Regions from separate parts of the Homo sapiens genome. Here region 2 is linked to region 1. Evidence: fine-mapped expression QTL. A gene starts in region 1. The other region holds a variant in brackets. All regions are shown on one strand. Distances are between the middles of the regions.

What was found. PIP is the estimated chance that this variant, and not a neighbour inherited with it, causes the effect.
Region 2: its variant is fine-mapped to the expression of CASP2 in T cells (TOPMed, PIP 0.95).

Annotation. Positions count from the first base shown.
Region 1 is chr7:143,285,176-143,293,466 of GRCh38, reverse strand. It overlaps CASP2 (caspase 2), which reads right to left and starts at 5,116. Exons shown (of 11, transcript NM_032982.4): 1 at 4,938-5,116; 2 at 1,777-1,927; 3 at 1,000-1,167; 4 at 769-850. The coding sequence starts at 5,011. It overlaps TMEM139 (transmembrane protein 139), which reads right to left. Exons shown (of 3, transcript NM_001282876.2): 1 at 8,022-8,291; 2 at 7,265-7,526; 3 at 5,419-7,043. The coding sequence starts at 7,509. The coding sequence ends at 6,638. TMEM139-AS1 (TMEM139 antisense RNA 1) reads left to right here and starts at 7,133. Exons shown (of 3, transcript NR_133932.1): 1 at 7,133-7,490; 2 at 7,629-7,749. It also overlaps the pseudogene RN7SL535P. RefSeq lists a silencer at 4,740-5,489 and an enhancer at 7,284-8,291.
Region 2 is chr7:143,088,785-143,097,123 of GRCh38, reverse strand. No RefSeq gene overlaps it. Among named protein-coding and RNA genes, the nearest start is that of PIP, 39 kb to the left of the region's middle. The variant G/A (reference allele first, on the strand shown) is at 3,346.

The sequences.
Region 1 (8,291 bases):
AAATTTACTGACAACTGTTCCCAATATAAACTATGTCTCAGCTGGGCATGGTGGCTTACGCCTATAATCCCAGCACTTTGGGAGGCCAAGGCGGAAGGATCATTTGAGGCCAGAAGTTTGACACCAGCCTGGGTAACAAAGTGAGACTCCTTCTCTACAAAAAATTTAAAAATGAGCTAGGTGTGGTGGCATGCACCTGTAATCCCAGGTACTTGGGAGGCTGAGGCAGGAGGAGCCCTTCAACCCAGGAGTTCAACGCTGCAGTGAGCTATGGTGGTGTCACTGCATTCCAGCCTGGGTGACAGAACAAGACCCTATTTCTGAAAAAAAACACAACAAAAAAAAAAAAAAACAAAAAAAAGGGCTCATGTTAGGACAAAGCCAGATACCAGACAAGAAAGGGGAAGTCAATCTGGGACACCCCCCTCCTTTTTATTTTATTTTATTTTATTTTTTGAGACTGAGTCTCACTCTGTTGGCAAGGCTGGAGTGCGGTGGCACCGTGTTGGCTCACTGCAACCTCCGTCTCCTGGGTTCTAGCAATTCTCCTGCCCCAGCTTCCCGAGTAGCTGGGATTACAGGCACCCACCACCATGCCCAGCTAGTTTTTATATTTTTAGTAGAGACGGGGTTTCACCATGTTGGCCAGGCTGGTCTCGAACTCCTGACCTCAGGTGATCCACCCGCCTTGGCCCCGCAAAGTGCTGGGATTATAGGCGTAAGCCGTGGCACCTGGCCTGGGACCCCTTTTAGTCCATCAATTCTCACCTGTCGACAGGCGGAGCTTCTTGTAAAGGGGACAGGACTCACACACCGGAAAAGGGAGACTCAAGTCGTAGTCACAGCTCAACTGTAAGAAATCAAAACTCATGATGACAGACCTTAGGGAAGTGGTCCGGTCCAAATACAACAAAATCTAGTCTCCCTCACTCTGACTTACAAATTCCTTTCCAGTCAAACTAACCCTTCCCAACACCCCATATTACTAAAGCTTCATACCGGTGGGAGTACATGCTGAAGCCCAGAAAGGGTGGTGAGCAACATATCCTCCAGGTGGCCTTGCTTGGTCTCCCTCAGTGCTTCACAGAAGGCATCAAAAGCTTGGGGACCCCTCTTAGGCAGCAAGTTGAGGAGTTCCACATTCTGGCTGAAACTGCCCACTTTGGCCTAAGACACAAGAATAAAACATGAAATCATATTTACTTCTCTAGCTATAATTCTATTTCTCCACATGAGCTTCCTAGTAGTGTCCTCATCCAAGAATTCTTTTTACAGGAAAAGTGTATGTATGGGTGAAGTCCTTTCTGTTATTCTTGAGTTATATATCATTTCTCTCAAATGCTCTACGGTAGAAGGGCATTTCCATTTCTTTAGAAAGGTACAACATCCAGCTGGGTGTGGTGGCTCACACCTGTAATCCCAGCACTTTGGGAGGCCGAGGCAGGTGGATCATGAGGTCAGGAGATCGACACCCTCCTGGCTAACACAGTGAAACCCTGTCTCTACTAAAAATCCAAAAAATTAGCCAGGCATGGTGGCACCTGCCTGTAGTCCCAGCTACTTGGGAGGCTGAGGCAGGAGAATCACTTGAACCTGGGAGGCAGAGGCTGCAGTGAGCCAAGATCGCGCCATTGTACTCCAGCCTGGGAGACAGAGACTCTGTCTCAAAAAAAAAAAAAAAAAAAAGGAAGAAAGATACGACACCCTTTCCATATTTTGTCATGCTCTATTCCCACCCCATGATCAATTTATCTTCTCTCTTTTGCCTCCAGATACCTGGATGAGCTCCCTCATTTCCAAGGTGATGATGTCCTTCTCCAGAAGATGTTCTAACAATTCGCTCAACAACAGCTGTTTGGCTAGCACCACTCGGTTCTTTTTTAGAGTTTCCTGATGATGAGGATGCATGCCACACACTCCCAATATCCTACAGATAAACGGTAGAAGGAAAGGCTGTCAAGTCACAATTTGACACAGAAGAGTGGAGTGGAAGAGGCATGAATAGGAAGAACAAAAAGAATAAGACTTACAATAACCAAGATTATGCATATTTCTTAAATCTGGTTAAAGCAAAGATGTACTAAGCAGGAACACATTGATCATAAGAAAATAATGTCTAATTCCTTATGGTTTATGTTCAGCTGAGATCATCTGAGATGAATGGTCTGACTAGAGGAGGGAAATATCTGTCTTAAGCAAAACAATACCCCCAAGTACACATATTTATGAGAAGGAATACTTCTCTGATAGACCAATTTTAATAAAGAGAATTATTTCAGAAAACATCTCACATTATCTAAGCTGGTGAAAGTGATGTAAGTTTATAATGATCTTAGATGAGGGTTAAAACACTATGGTAAAAACTCAAGCCAATGGCTTTAACAGAAAATAAATGAGGCAGACACTAACTCTCTTTCACTAGTGATATAAACATATAATTACATGTTTTTTAAAACTTTTAAGTTCCAGTGACAAAATGGCGAATCCTGTTAAGATGTGGATAAGCAGAAAGTATGACAGAAAGTCACAGTGGATAGGTATTTATCTATTTACTTTAAAAGAGTCTCACTGTGCCACCCAGGCTGGAGTGCAGTGGCTATTCACAGGTATGATCCCATTACAGAGCAGCACAGGAGTTTTGACTTGCTCCATTTTTGACCTGGGCGGGTTCACCCTTCCTTAGGCAACCTGGTGGACCCTGACTCCCAGGACATCACCACACTGATGCTGAACTTAATGTGGACACGTGACTGGCATAGCACACTATAGCCCAGAACTCCTGGACTCAAGCGATCCACCTGCCTCAGCCTCCCAAGTAGTTGGGACTACAGGCATGTGCTGTCACCTCCAGCTAATTTTGCTACAGGCTTGCAAAGAGATCAGCTTCTGCTTATAAACTAAAATAATCCTATTGCCAATATGTCATCTACATGCCTAGTTTACATAAATCCAGAGTTCTCTAGCCTGCCCCGTCACATTTTCCACATATGTAACAGCAGGAAGGGTGGCACCTGATAGCAGTGAAAATACAATAACTTCCATTTATAACTTAAAAACCTACTCTAAAATGCATTCTGATTTCTAAGGTGTTAAAACATGAGGGGAGGCCGGGCACGGTGGCTCATGCCTGTAATCCCTGCACTTTGGGAGGCTAAGGTGGGCAGATCACCTGAGGTCAGGAGTTCAAGACCAGCCTGGCCAACATGGTGAAACCCTGTCTCTACTAAAAATACAAAAAATTAGCCGAGTGTGGTGCTGCATGCCTGTAGTCCTAGCTACTCGGGAGGCTGAGACAGGAGAATCGCTTGAACCTTGGAGATGGAGGTTGCAGTGAGCTGAGATCATTCCACTGCACTCCAGCCTGGGTGACACAGCAAAGACTCCGTCCAAAAAAAAAAAAAAAAAAAAAAAGGGAGGGAAAAAATGTGTATCTTAGAGTCAGTGAAATACCACACATCTATGGAATGGATGCACTTGGCTTGCAGATGCTATTGGGTGAGAGATTTATAGTTAGAAGAGGGAAGAGCTGGGTCCTGGAAGAACTGGGAGAACTAAGATAGCAGGTGGGATCCTAAAACAGATGAAGTGGGTTGGAAGCAGCCAATGAATCTGAGGTTTGGAAAAATGAGTCTGAAACTCCATTTTTTCTTCTTTTTACTGTAATATTTCCATTACCCAAGACTTTCAGGAAAAACTGGCTACAAGAAAAAGAGCTATACAAATAAAAAAACCTATTTAAGAATGAATCACTTTCGAATACGTCAAAGCAGTAATAACGATCACATATAACACTGCAGCTGGGATACTAACCAGTGGTGCAGCAGATTTCTTCCATTAGTTTACCAGTAGTATTCGCTCCTTAAATCGTTCTCTTCCTCTGGTTTCCATGACAGCATTCTTTGGGAGTCTTCTCTCTGCCTACCCAGTTCCTGTTTTCTTTAGAGGGCCTTTGGCCTGCCCTTAATATTGATATTCCATTAGGGACGCCCCTTCAAAGAGCCTTTCCCTAGACAATCTCACCCATACTTGCAACTTACTGACTTATAGTTCTTAACTCTCTCGAGTTCCAGACTTGAATTTTCAATCAACTCTTTAGTTTTAATCTGAAGCATCACCCCCTCTGCACACCCGCTCCTTCCTCTACTCTGTAGTATGAGAGTCTTAAACGTGAACATTATAAAAGTTTCCAATCATTTAGAATTTCAGGACACAACTGGAAGGGGAGGAGGGGCGAAGGGCACCACGGAGTTCCTACGTCTTAATTCTGTGTCCTTCTGCAGGTTCCCTTTGCGAAGACCTTAATCTTCAGTCTCGAGCAGGAGGCATTACAATGTTCTCCTGGGTGATGACTGCCATGAAATGGAATGACCGGGGCAGAGGCATGGACACTCGGAGCCACAGGAACCCCCTTGTTCTGCCAAAAGTACTCAATTTCCAAACCCTGTATTGACTTCTTTGAAAATCTGGTCATTCTATGCAAAGCCATGCAGATCATGATACAATCGATACAAATCAAATGCACATCAGGCAGAGCACCGAGGTCTGCAGAAGGTCTCGTCGATTTTTAAGGAGACAGAGTATGGTCTTTTTATAGTTTCCCTCATAAGGGAGCCAGAGGAAAGGATGAAGAATCTTCAAGAGAACCCAAGAGCGGGCAGGACTGCAAAGACCTCCCCTTTAGAACCCTCGTGGGTTGAACAAAGGGAGGCTGGGGCAGTCTTTTCCCACGAGAGACAAGGCCAAGAGGTCCGCCCGCGGGCCCTTGCGCGGAGTCAGGCTCGGAGCGGCTCGGGCGGGCGTCCCACCCTTGGCAGGAAGCGCGGACACGGCTGCTTTCCGGGGCTCCGAGGGGAGGGGGCTGCAGGGCCGCACGCCTGGGGGCCACGCTCCCCTTCCCTGGGCTCCCCTAAGGAGCCCTAAGACCGTTCCCTACTTACCTGCGTCCCCTGTCAGCGGCCATCAGCTCCTTGTGCTGGAAGGTGGACCAAGACCCCGCGCTCGGCGCCGCCATTTCCCGCTTTTCCCGGGCTCTCCGCTGCGCACCGCCCACAGCCCAAACAAACCGGGGGCCGTCGCTTCCCCCACATCCCTCCCCTCAGACGCGGACGCACACTGCGCCTGCGCCTGCGCCCTGCCGCGCCCACACACCAGGCCACCCAGTCCCCGGCCCGGTGCGTGCGCAGGCGCAGAGCTCTAGCGGCGGCCGCGCGGTCCAATGGGGTGAAGTGGGGTGCTCGGCGGACAGACAAAAGGAGGGGAAGGAGCGGGGCGGGGCAAAGGGCGGGGAAAGAGCGAGGGCGGGCGGGTGTGCTCCGTTCGGCCTGGGAATCCGATTGGTTATCGATTCCCGCGGAAATCACCCCGGTGCCTCTCGCGCCCCCTGGCCGGCCTATGGCGATAACTTCACGGAGACGGGCGTGGCTGGAGTTTTGCTTTATTGAAGTTGAACGGTTGGGGCCAGGCTGCGAAGGAGACTGAGAGCGCGACAAGGCCCTGGACAGATGCCCGCGCGGGGAAGGAAGGCTGGCTTAGGAGGGGGCGTCAGCTATGGTTTAGCAGCTTCCAGCGACCGAAACCTACATCACAGCCGCAGCACACAATTCCAGGAAACCTGGTGCTCAATATTGGGATCTCAGGAATCAGGACCGGCGGCTGGGGTGAAAGCCTAGCGGTCAGAGCTTAGGAGTGAGGCAGAAGCTGTTAGAGACTCTTCGCAAGTGACCCCGGGGCTACATATGGATGATTCAAGAGGGAGTCTCCTCGCCAGAAAGTTCACATGTTTCACTCCTTCTGGCCTTCATACCAACCCATTGTTAAAACTGGAAGTCCCTCCACCTGGGGTCACTGACTCCACTGTTTTCAGATAGGATGGGGACCCTGCACTGGAGACTGCTCTCTAGCCCCTGGGCAGGAGAGGCACAGACACTGCTACGCACGCGGAGCAGGGATCACCAGCGCTTTGACTGACTTTGCTCGTCCAGGAGGCTGGGGACATGCGTGCCCATGCTCAGCCCACCCCCTCTGTAGACACAATTGGTCGCCCATTCTGTTTATAGGAAGTCTTCCATCCTGCACCAGCAGCTGTCCCTAGACAGGGATTGGGAGACATGCAAGTTGCTTGGCTTCCTATTACCTTGTGTTGAAAACACAATAGGCTTTGGGATCAGGAGTTCATTCCAGTTATTTTAATGTTATTTACTAGCAGTGTGCCCTCGTGCACATTATCAAACTCCTCTGACTCTTGGAATCCTCATTTTTCAATAATAACTCACAAAGCTGTCAAGCCTAAGGGTTCTAACAGCTCGAACAGCACCTGGAACAGAAGCAATAGCCGCCACTCAGAGGTTACTTCTTCCTTCTCCGCCTTCTCTGGATCACCTCCCTACCTCATCCTCAATCTAACGCTGGAAATATTGGATATGGGGTAGGTCACCAAATGTTGCCAGAAGACTCAAATTATGCCACCCATATCTCAGCTGGGAAGGGCTTACCGTGGCCTGACTCTCCTCAGGGTCCAAGTCCCCATTTATGATGTCCAGGCAGAAACACTTGTTTCTGACACATAGTAGGCGCTGGAAAATGTTAGTCAAATGAACGAGGTCTGGTGTGGAGAGAAGAGAAATCTTGGGAGAGTCATTTAAGGGGGTGCCCAGTTGTCCTCATAAAAAACACTATCATCATCAGGGTGACCAAAGCAGACATCATAGGCAGGGGGTGGAGTCAGAGGCTCTAATGTGGGGACTGCCGCCAAGCTCTGCAGATCAGGAGCAGTGGACACAGCCCGTGGTCCCCGAAGCCGAAGGTTGATTGGAGCTCTTCCAGGGCTTCCTTCCTGGGCCATGGACCCCTCTGAGGCCATTCGCCTCTGTTCCAGTTTGGCTCTCCTGGACCCCTCTGGATGGCTAGGTTGTTCCTCCTCAGGTGCTGGGGGTATCACAACAGTGCTGTAGGGGGGTGGTTGGTCCAACTCTTGGGGGCGGCACTGGGATTCTAGTCCCACCACGGCCTCTTCATAGACTGGCACTTCAAAGGCTTCATTGTCCCTGAGGGAAGAGAAATAAGGCCATTGGTGGCTTCCATGAAAGAAGCCCTTTTTCCCTTTTTTTTGTCTGCTGTGGGCAAAAGATCCTCTGTTGGCCTCTGACCCCTCCTCCCGCTGATGCCAATGACAGGAAACCAGAGACTCTCTGCCTCAGAGACTACAGGGAGAGAGGGAGGATGGGCCCAAGGTGTATTCCTCTTACGATGCCCACCCTTAACTCACCGTGCATTGCCTGAGGGCCCTGGGCTCTCAGTCTGCATTGATTGGAGCTGGGACCGAAGCCCCCATTCCAGAAACCGGACCAGGAGATAGGCAAACAAGAAGAAGCCACCCAATGTGAGAAAGAAATAAGCAACGGGGGTGATGTCCGTCTTTATGCCCAGCAAAGCCAGCCCCAGTAGGAAGGAGGCGCAGCACAGGAGGAGAAGCGGCTTCTCCAGTCTCCCCAGTAAGTGCATTGGCACCATGGCCCCTCCCCAGGCTCCTGCAAAAAGACACACAGCTATTGTGTCTACACTAGCAATTGGTGTCATGGCTGTGTCAGATACCAAAGTAACCATATGATATTTCTTTGTTTGGTTTCTAGGTTCTTCAATCTCAAATAAATCATCTGTAGAGTCCCCTCCAGTTCCGAAATTCTCTCTATGTCTTGGAGTGTGTGGAATAGCCAGGAAACCAGCCCAGGAGCTTTGACTCCCAGCCATTCTGTAAGTTGACTGTGTCATGGCTCTGCCTTCTTTCCTTTCTCCTTCCCTGTAGTCTCCCTTCCAGCTTTGTCCCTTACCACCATCCAGGATCCGGTCCTGGGCACGCCCTGCCTGGGGCTTCAGTGCACACTGGCATCTCTGGAATTCAGGTGATGGGGCAGGCCCTGCCCTTCCTCTGTTATTGCTCCTACTGGATCTCCACCCCCACCTCCCCAGCCAGAGGCCCTCAATCCAGCCCCGTTAGAGAGAAGAGGGGAGGGAGCCCCACTTACCCTGTCTGACTCTGTCTTTTCCTTTCCTCCGGTGTTAGCCCATGCTCCAGGTGGAGGGAGAAAGTGCACACAGGCGCACCAAAGCCACAGGGACACAACTGCTTGAGAAACAATTGTACAGGCAAAGGCCCAGCACAATGGCCGGAGGCCCTGATAACTCCTGTCCTCTTCTAGACCCCACATCTGCCAGGGCCCTCCTCTACCCTCTGCTGATCCTAACTTGTTAAACTCAGTTTGCAAATTTCCTGCCAGGAGGTAGCCCAGTGGCTG
Region 2 (8,339 bases), 200 kb after region 1:
ATTAAACCAATGTTATGGAGAGAGAACTAAGGATCATAGAAACTAATTAATGTACCTAAGGTTATACAGGAAGTAAGTGGCCAGGTTAAACTAGGTTTCTGTAGTTACAAAAGCCATCTACTTCTCATTACACCATGTTGCATCTCTCAATTTAAAATTACAGTTTAATTGTAGATCCTTGAGGAATTGCCACATTGTCTTCCACAATGGTTGAAGTAGTTTACAGTCCCACCAACAGTGTAAAAGTGTTCCTATTTCTTTGTAGGGACATGGATGAAGCTGGAAACCATCATTTTCAGAAAACTATCGCAAGGACAAAAAACCAACCACCACATGTTCTCACTCATCAGTGGGAGTTGAACAATGAGAACACTTGGACACAGGAAGGGGAACATCACACACCGGGGCCTGTCGTGGGGTGGGGGGAGCGGGGAGGGATAGCATTAGGAGATATACCTAATGTAAATGACAAGTTAATGGGTGCAGCACACCAACATGGCACATGTATACATATGTAACAAACTTGCACCTAGTGCACATGTACCCTATAACTTAAAAGTATAATAATTTAAAAAAAAATTTAAAATTTTAAAAATTTTAAAAATAAAATAAAATAAAATTACAGTTTAAGATTACAGCTCTGTGCGAAAAGTTTAGGACTATTTCCAACCTGGCAGCTCAGTTAAGTACAAGAAGATGAACCAGTCTGCATTGCCCAGTGGAATTTCCAAAGGAACCAGGAGGAAGAGGTGGTTTGTGAGCCTCTTCAGGCCAGCTGGCAGAAGGTCCCAACACGCCCTCTTAGCCTTTCAAGATGTCCTTTTAGACAGATTTTTCTTCTGCAGGAAAAGTCAACAGTAGCTGCACAATGGCAAATGTCATGAATGTGCCCTCAGGACAGGAGACAGATTGTTCTTCCTGGTTTTATAGGCAAAATAATGTGCTTGTGTCAGGGATCAATTTAATCCACCTATCTTCACTTGCTTGCCATTTCAACCTCTTAAATACTGTGAAATAGTTGTCACTGAATCTCCATTTGCCAGTTTGGCACTACCCTGATCCAAGTACCCTGCCCTTGCACTCCAACCCTGTATTCAGTCTTGTAGTATCTCTAGGGAGTGACCCCAGACACATTCCCTGGGTAAATTTTCAGGGCTCCAATTCCATTGGTGAATGGTCGTTGATAGAAAGCCCCATGTGAACCAAGAACTTCATCTGTCTGGATTGTACACACAGAAATCTCACCCACGCTTTTCATGTAAATGTCTGCCTCCCAGCCCTGGACACATTTTGAGATAATTTAGATAAATAATTGATATCACACCTTGGCATTTCTGCCCACTTTCTGCATTCCACCGTCTTGAGGATGACTACCTTATCCTGGTTTGCCCAGAACTTTCTGAGTTTTGGCACTGAAAGTCTTCTATCCTGGGAGACTCCTCAGCTCTGGACAAATCAAGGTAATAGACCATTGCAATTACTATTTTGTCTCGGATTCTAGCTCACAAAGTGCTTCAGCACTCAGGTTAATTTCTAGGGGCCTTGTTCCATTGTGATATTTCTTTAACACTTTATTTATTTATTTATTTTTCCATAAGTTATTGGGGTACACATGGTATTTGGTTATATGAATAAGTTCTTTAGTGGTGATTTGTGAGATTTTGGTGCACTCATCACCTACACAGTATACAACTGCACCATATATGTTGTCTTTTATCCCTCACTTCCCTCCCACTCTTCCCCATAAGTCCCCAAAGTCCATTGTATAATTCTTATGCCTTTGTGTCCTCATAGCTTAGCTGCCACATATCAGTGAAAACATACGACATTTGGTTTTCCATTCCTGAGTTACTTCACTTAGAATAATAGTCTCCAATCTCATTCAGGTCAGTGCAAATGCTGTTAATTCATTCCTTTTTATGGCTCAGTAGTATTCCATCATATGTTTATATCACGGTTTCTTTATCCACTTGTTGATTGATAGGCATTTGGGTTGGTCTCATGATTTTGCAACTGTAAATTGTGCTGCTATAGACATGTGTGTGCAAGTATCTTTTTTGTATAATGACTTCTTTTCCTCTGAGTAGATACCCAGTAGTGAGATTGCTGGATCAAATGGTGGATCTACTTTTAGTTCTTTAAAGAATCTCCACACTGTTTTCCTTGGTGGCTGTAGTAGTTTACATCCCCACCAGCAGTGTAGAAGTGTTTCCTGATCACCACATCCATGCCAGCATCTCCTGTTTTTGATTTTTTTGTTTGTTTGTTTATACAAGCTTAATCTATTTATTCAAAATATGAATCATCAATATAATTTGCCACTAGTATCTCATTCAGTCCCTTCACTGGACACGTAATCCACTGGGAGATAAGAGATTAGCAGCTGGCAGGCAGTGATGCACAGCAAAAACAAAAACCAAGAGGTGAAATAGTTCTGAAATAAAGAAGGTTTTAAAGCTAAGAGAAATTATTGAATTACTAAGTCATTACCACTAATTTTGAGCCAACTAACTAATTAATATGAGATGATACAACGTCCTATGCTTTGGTAAATACAAACTATGTTTAAACAATGTCTGTAATGTGACTTTCAAAATGCTTCTGGCTTTACAAAGATGTGATTAAAATGTAGTAATACATGATAAAGCATTTACCCCTGCAGAGCATGTTGTAATGTTCTTTTTTATTTTATTTTATTATTATTATACTTTTAAGTTTTAGGGTACATGTGCACAACGTGCAGGTTTGTTACATATGTATACATGTACCATGTTGGTGTGCTGCACCCATTAACTCATCATTTAGCATTAGGTATATCTCCTAATGCTATCCCTCCCCCCTCCCCCCACCCCACAACAGGTCTCGGTGTGTGATGTTCCCCTTCCTGTGTCCATGTGTTCTCATTGTTCAATTCCCACCTATGAGTGAGAACATGCGGTGTTTGGTGTTTTGTCCTTGCGATAGTTTTCTGAGAATGATGGTTTCCAGTTTCATCCATGTCCCTACAAAGGACACGAACTCATCATTTTTTATGGCTGCATAGTATTCCATGGTGTATATGTGCCATATTTTCTTAATCCAGTCTATCATTGTTGGACATTTAGGTTGGTTCCAAGTCTTTGCTATTGTGAATAGTGCCGCTATAAACATACATGTGCATGTGTCTTTATAGCAGCATGATTTATAATCCTTTGGTTGTATACCCAGTAATGGGATGGCTGGGTCAAATGGTATTTCTAGTTCTAGATCCCTGAGGAATCGCCACACTGACTTCCACAATGGTTGAACTAGTGTACAGTCCCACCAACAGTGTAAAGGTGTTCCTATTTCTTGACATCCTCTCCA[G/A]CACCTGTGTTTCCTGACCTTTTAATGATCGCCATTCTAACTGGTGTGAGATGGTATCTCATTGTGGTTTTGATTTGCATTTCTCTGATGGCCAGTGATGATGAGCATTTTTTCATGTGTTTTTTGCTGCATAAATGTCCTCTTTTGAGAAGTATCTATTCATATCCTTCAACCACTTTTTAATGGGGTTGTTTGTTTTTTTCTTGTAAATTTGTTTGAGTTCATTGTAGATTCTGGATATTAGTCCTTTGTCAGATGAGTAGGTTTCAAAAATGTCCTCCCATTCTGTAGGTTGCCTGTTCACTCTGATGGTAGTTTCTTTTGCTGTGCAGAAGCTCTTTAGTTTAATTAGATCCCATTTGTCATTTTTGGCTTTTGTTGCCATTGCTTTTGGTGTTTTAGACATGAAGTCCTTGCCCATGCCTATGTCCTGAATGGTATTGCCTAGGTTTTCTTCTAGGGCTTTTATGATTTTAGGTCTAACATGTAAGTCTTTAATCCATCTTGAATTAATTTTTGTATAAGGTGTAAGGAAGGAATCCAGTTTAAGCTTTCTCCATATGGCTAGCCAATTTTCCCAGCACCATTTATTAAGTAGGGAATCCTTTCCCCATTTCTTGTTTTTCTCAGGTTTGTCAAAGATCAGATAGTTGTAGATGTGCGGCATTATTTCTGAGGGCTCTGTTCTGTTCCATTGGTCTATATCTCTGTTTTGGTACCAGTACCATGCTGTTTTGGTTACTGTAGCCTTGTAGAATAGTTTGAAGTCAGGTAGTGTGATGCCTCCAGCTTTGTTCTTTTGGCTTAGGATTGACTTGGCGATGCGGGCTCTTTTTTGGTTCCATATGAACTTTAAAGTAGTTTTTTCCAGTTCTGTGAAGAGAGTCATTGGTAGCTGATGGGGATGGCATTGAATCTATAAATTACCTTGGGCAGTATGGCCATTTTCACGATATTGATTCTTCCTATCCATGAGCATGGAATGTTCTTCCATTTGTTTGTATCCTCTTTTATTTCATTGAGCAGTGGTTTGTAGTTCTCCTTGAAGAGGTCCTTCACATCCCTTGTAAGTTGGATTCCTAGGTATTTCATTCTCTTTGAAGCAATTGTGAATGGGAGTTCACTCGTTCACTCATGATTTGGCTCTCTGTTTGTCTGTTATTGGTGTATAAGAATGCTTGTGATTTTTGTACATTCATTTTGTATCCTGAGACTTTGCTGAAGTTGCTTATCAGCTTGAGGAGATTTTGGGCTGAGACGATGGGGTTTTCTAGATATACAATCATGTCATCTTCAAACAGGGACAATTTGACTTCCTCTTTTCCTAATTGAATACCCTTTATTTCCTTCTCCTGCCTGATTGCCCTGGCCAGAACTTCCAACACTATGTTGAATAGGAGTGGTGAGAGAGGGCATCCCTGTCTTGTGCCCGTTTTCAAAGGGAATGCTTCCAGTGTTTGCCCATTCAGTATGATATTGGCTGTGGGTTTGTCATAAATAGCTCTTATTATTTTGAGATCCATCCCATCAATACCTAATTTATTGAGAGTTTTTAGCATGAAGGGTTGTTGAATTTTGTCAAAGGCCTTTTCTGCATCTATTGAGATAATCATGTGGTTTTTCTCTTTGGTTCTGTTTATATGCTGGATTACATTTATTGGTTTGCATATGTTGAACCAGCCTTGCATCCCAGGGATGAAGCCCACTTGATCATGGTGGATAAACTTTTTGATGTGCTGCTGGATTTGGTTTGCCAGTATTTTATTGAGGATTTTTGCATTGATGTTCATCAAGGATATTGGTCTAAAATTCTCTGTTTTGGTTGTGTCTCTGCCAGGCTTTGGTATTAGGATGATGCTGGCCTCATAAAATGAGTGAGGGAGGATTCCCTCTTTTTCTATTGATTGGAATAGTTTCATAAGGATTGGTACCAGCTCCTCTTTGTACCTCTGGTAGAATTCGGCTGTGAATCCATCTGGTCCTGGACTTTTTTTGGTTGGTAAGCTATTGATTATTGCCTCAATTTCAGAGCCTTTTATTGGTCTATTCAGAGATTCAACTTCTTCCTGGTTTAGTCTTGGGAGGATGTATGTGTCAAGGAATTTATCCATTTCTTCTAGATTTTCTAGTTTATTTGCGTAGAGGTGTTTATAGTATTCTCTGATGGTAGTTTGTATTTCTGTGGGATTGGTGGTGATATCCCCTTTATTATTTTTTATTGTGTCTATTTGATTCTTCTCTCTTTTCTTCTTTATTAGTCTTGCTAGTGGTCTATCAATTTTGTTAATCTTTTCTAAAAACCAGCTCCTGGATTCACTAATTTTTTGAAGGGTTTTTTGTGTCTCTATCTCCTTCAGTTCTGCTCTGATCTTAGTTATTTCTTGCCTTCTGCTAGCTTTTGAATGTGTTTACTCTTGCTTCTCTAGTTCTTTTAATTGTGATGTTAGGGTGTCAATTTTAGATCTTTCCTGCTTTCTCTTGTGGGCATTTAGTCCTATAAATTTCCCTCTACACGCTGCTTTGAATGTGTCCCAGAGATTCTGGTATTTGTGTCTTTGTTCTTGTTGGTTTTGAAGACCATCTTTATTTCTGCCTTCATTTCATTATGTCCCCAGTAGTCATTCAGGAGCAGGTTGTTCAGTTTCCATGTAGTTGAGCGGTTTTGAGTGAGTTTCTTAATCCTGAGTTCTAGTTAGATTGCACTGTGGTCTGAGAGACAGTTTGTTATAATTTCTGTTCTTTTACATTTGCTGAGGAGTGCTTTACTTCCAAGTATGTGGTCAATTTTGGAGTAGGTGTGGTGTGGTGCTGAAAAGAAAGTATATTCTGTTGATTTGGGGTGGAGAGTTCTGTAGATGTCTATTAGGTTTGCTTGGTGCAGAGCTGAGTTCAGTTCCTGGATATCCTTGTTAACTTTCTGTCTGATTGATCTGTCTAATGTTGACAGTGGGGTGTTACAGTCTGCCATTATTATTGTGTGGGAGTCTAAGTCTCTTTGTAGGTCACTAAGGACTTGCTTTATGAATCTGGGTGCTCCTGTATTGGGTGCATACATATTTAGGATAGTTAGCTCTTGTTGAATTGATCCCTTTACCATTATGTAATGGCCTTCTTTGTCTCTTTTGATCTTTGTTGGTTTAAAGTCTGTTTTATCAGAGACTAGGATTGCAACCCCTGCCCTTTTTTGTTTTCCATTTGCTGGTAGATCTTCCTCCATCTCTTTATTTTGAGCCTATGTGTGTCTCTGCACGTGAGATGGGTTTCCTGAATACAGCACACTGATGGGTCTTGAGTCTTTATCCAATTTGCCAGTCTGTGTCTTTTCATTGGAGCATTTAGCCCATTTACATTTAAAGTTAATATTGTTATGTGTGAATTTGATCCTGTCATTATGATGTTAGCTGGTTATTTTGCCTGTTAGTTGATGCAGTTTCTTCCTAGCCTTGATGGTCTTTACAGTTTGGCATGCTTTTGCAGTGGCTGGTACCAGTTTTTCCTTTGCATGTTTAGTGCTTCCTTCAGGAGTTCTTTTAGGGCAGGCCTGGTGGTAACAAAATCAGCATTTGCTTGTCTGTAAAGGATTTTACTTCTCCTTCACTTATAAAGCTCAGTTTGGCTGGATATGAAATTCTGGGTTGAAAGTTCTTTTCTTTAAGAATGTTGAATATTGGTCCCCACTCTCTTCTGTCTTGTAGAGTTTCTGCCGAGAGATCAGCTGTTAATCTGATGGGCTTCCCTTTGTGGGTAACCCGACCTTTCTCTCTGGCTGCCCTTAACATTTTTTCCGTCATTTCAACTTTGGTGAATCTGACAATTATGTGTCTTGGAGTTGCTCTTCTTGAGGAGTATCTTTGTGGTGTTCTCTGTATTTCCTGAATTTGAAAGTTGGCCTACCTTCCTAGATTGGGGAAGTTCTCCTGGATAATATCCTGCAGAGTGTTTTCCAACTTAGTTCCATTCTCCCCGTCACTTTCAGGTACACCAATCAGACATAGATTTGGTCTTTTCACATAGTCCCATATTTCTTGAAGGCTTTGTTCGTTTCTTTTTATTCTTTTTTCTCTAAACTTCTCTTCTCGCTTCATTTCATTCATTTGATCTTCCCTCACTGATACCCTTTCTTCCAGTTGATCGCATCGGCTACTGAGGCTTCTGCATTCATCACGTAGCTCTCGTGCCTTTGTTTTCAGCTCCATCAGGTCCTTTAAGGACTTCTCTGCGTTGGTTATTCTAGTGATCCATTAGTCTAATTTTTTTTCAAAGCTTTTAACTTCTTTGCCATTGGTTTGAATTTCCTCCTGTAGCTCGGAGTAGTTTGATCTTCTGAAGCCTTCTTCTCTCGACTCATCAAAGTCATTCTCCGTCCAGTTTTGTTCCATTGCTGGTGAGGAGCTGCGTTCCTTTGGAGGAGGAGAGGCTCTCTGATTTTTAGAGTTTCCAGTTTTTCTGCTCTGTTTTTTCCCATCTTTGTGGTTTTATCTACCTTTGGTCTTTGATGATGATGATGTACAGATGGGTTTTTGGTGTGGATGTCCTTTCTGTTTGTTAGTTTTCCTTCTAACAGACAGGACCCTCAGCTGCAGATGTGTTGGATTTTGCTAGAGGTCCACTCCAGACCCTGTTTGCCTGGGTTTCAGCCGTGATGGCTGCAGAAGAGCGGATGTTGGTGAACCGCAAACGCTGCTGTCTGATCGTTCCTCTGGAGGTTTTGTCTCAGAGGAGTACCCAGACGTGTGAGGTGTCAGTCTGCCACTACTGGGGGGTGCCTCCCAGAAAGGCTACTCGGGGGTCAGGGACCCACTTGAGGAGGCAGTCTGCCAGATCTCAGATCTCCAGCTGAGTGCTGGGAGAACCACTACTCTCTTCAAAGCTGTCAGAGAGGGACATTTAAGTCTGCAGAGGTTACTGCTGTCTTTTTGTTTGTCTGTGCCCTGCCCCCAGAGGTGGAGCCTACAGAGGCAGGCAGGCCTCCTTGAGCTGTGGTGGGCTCCACC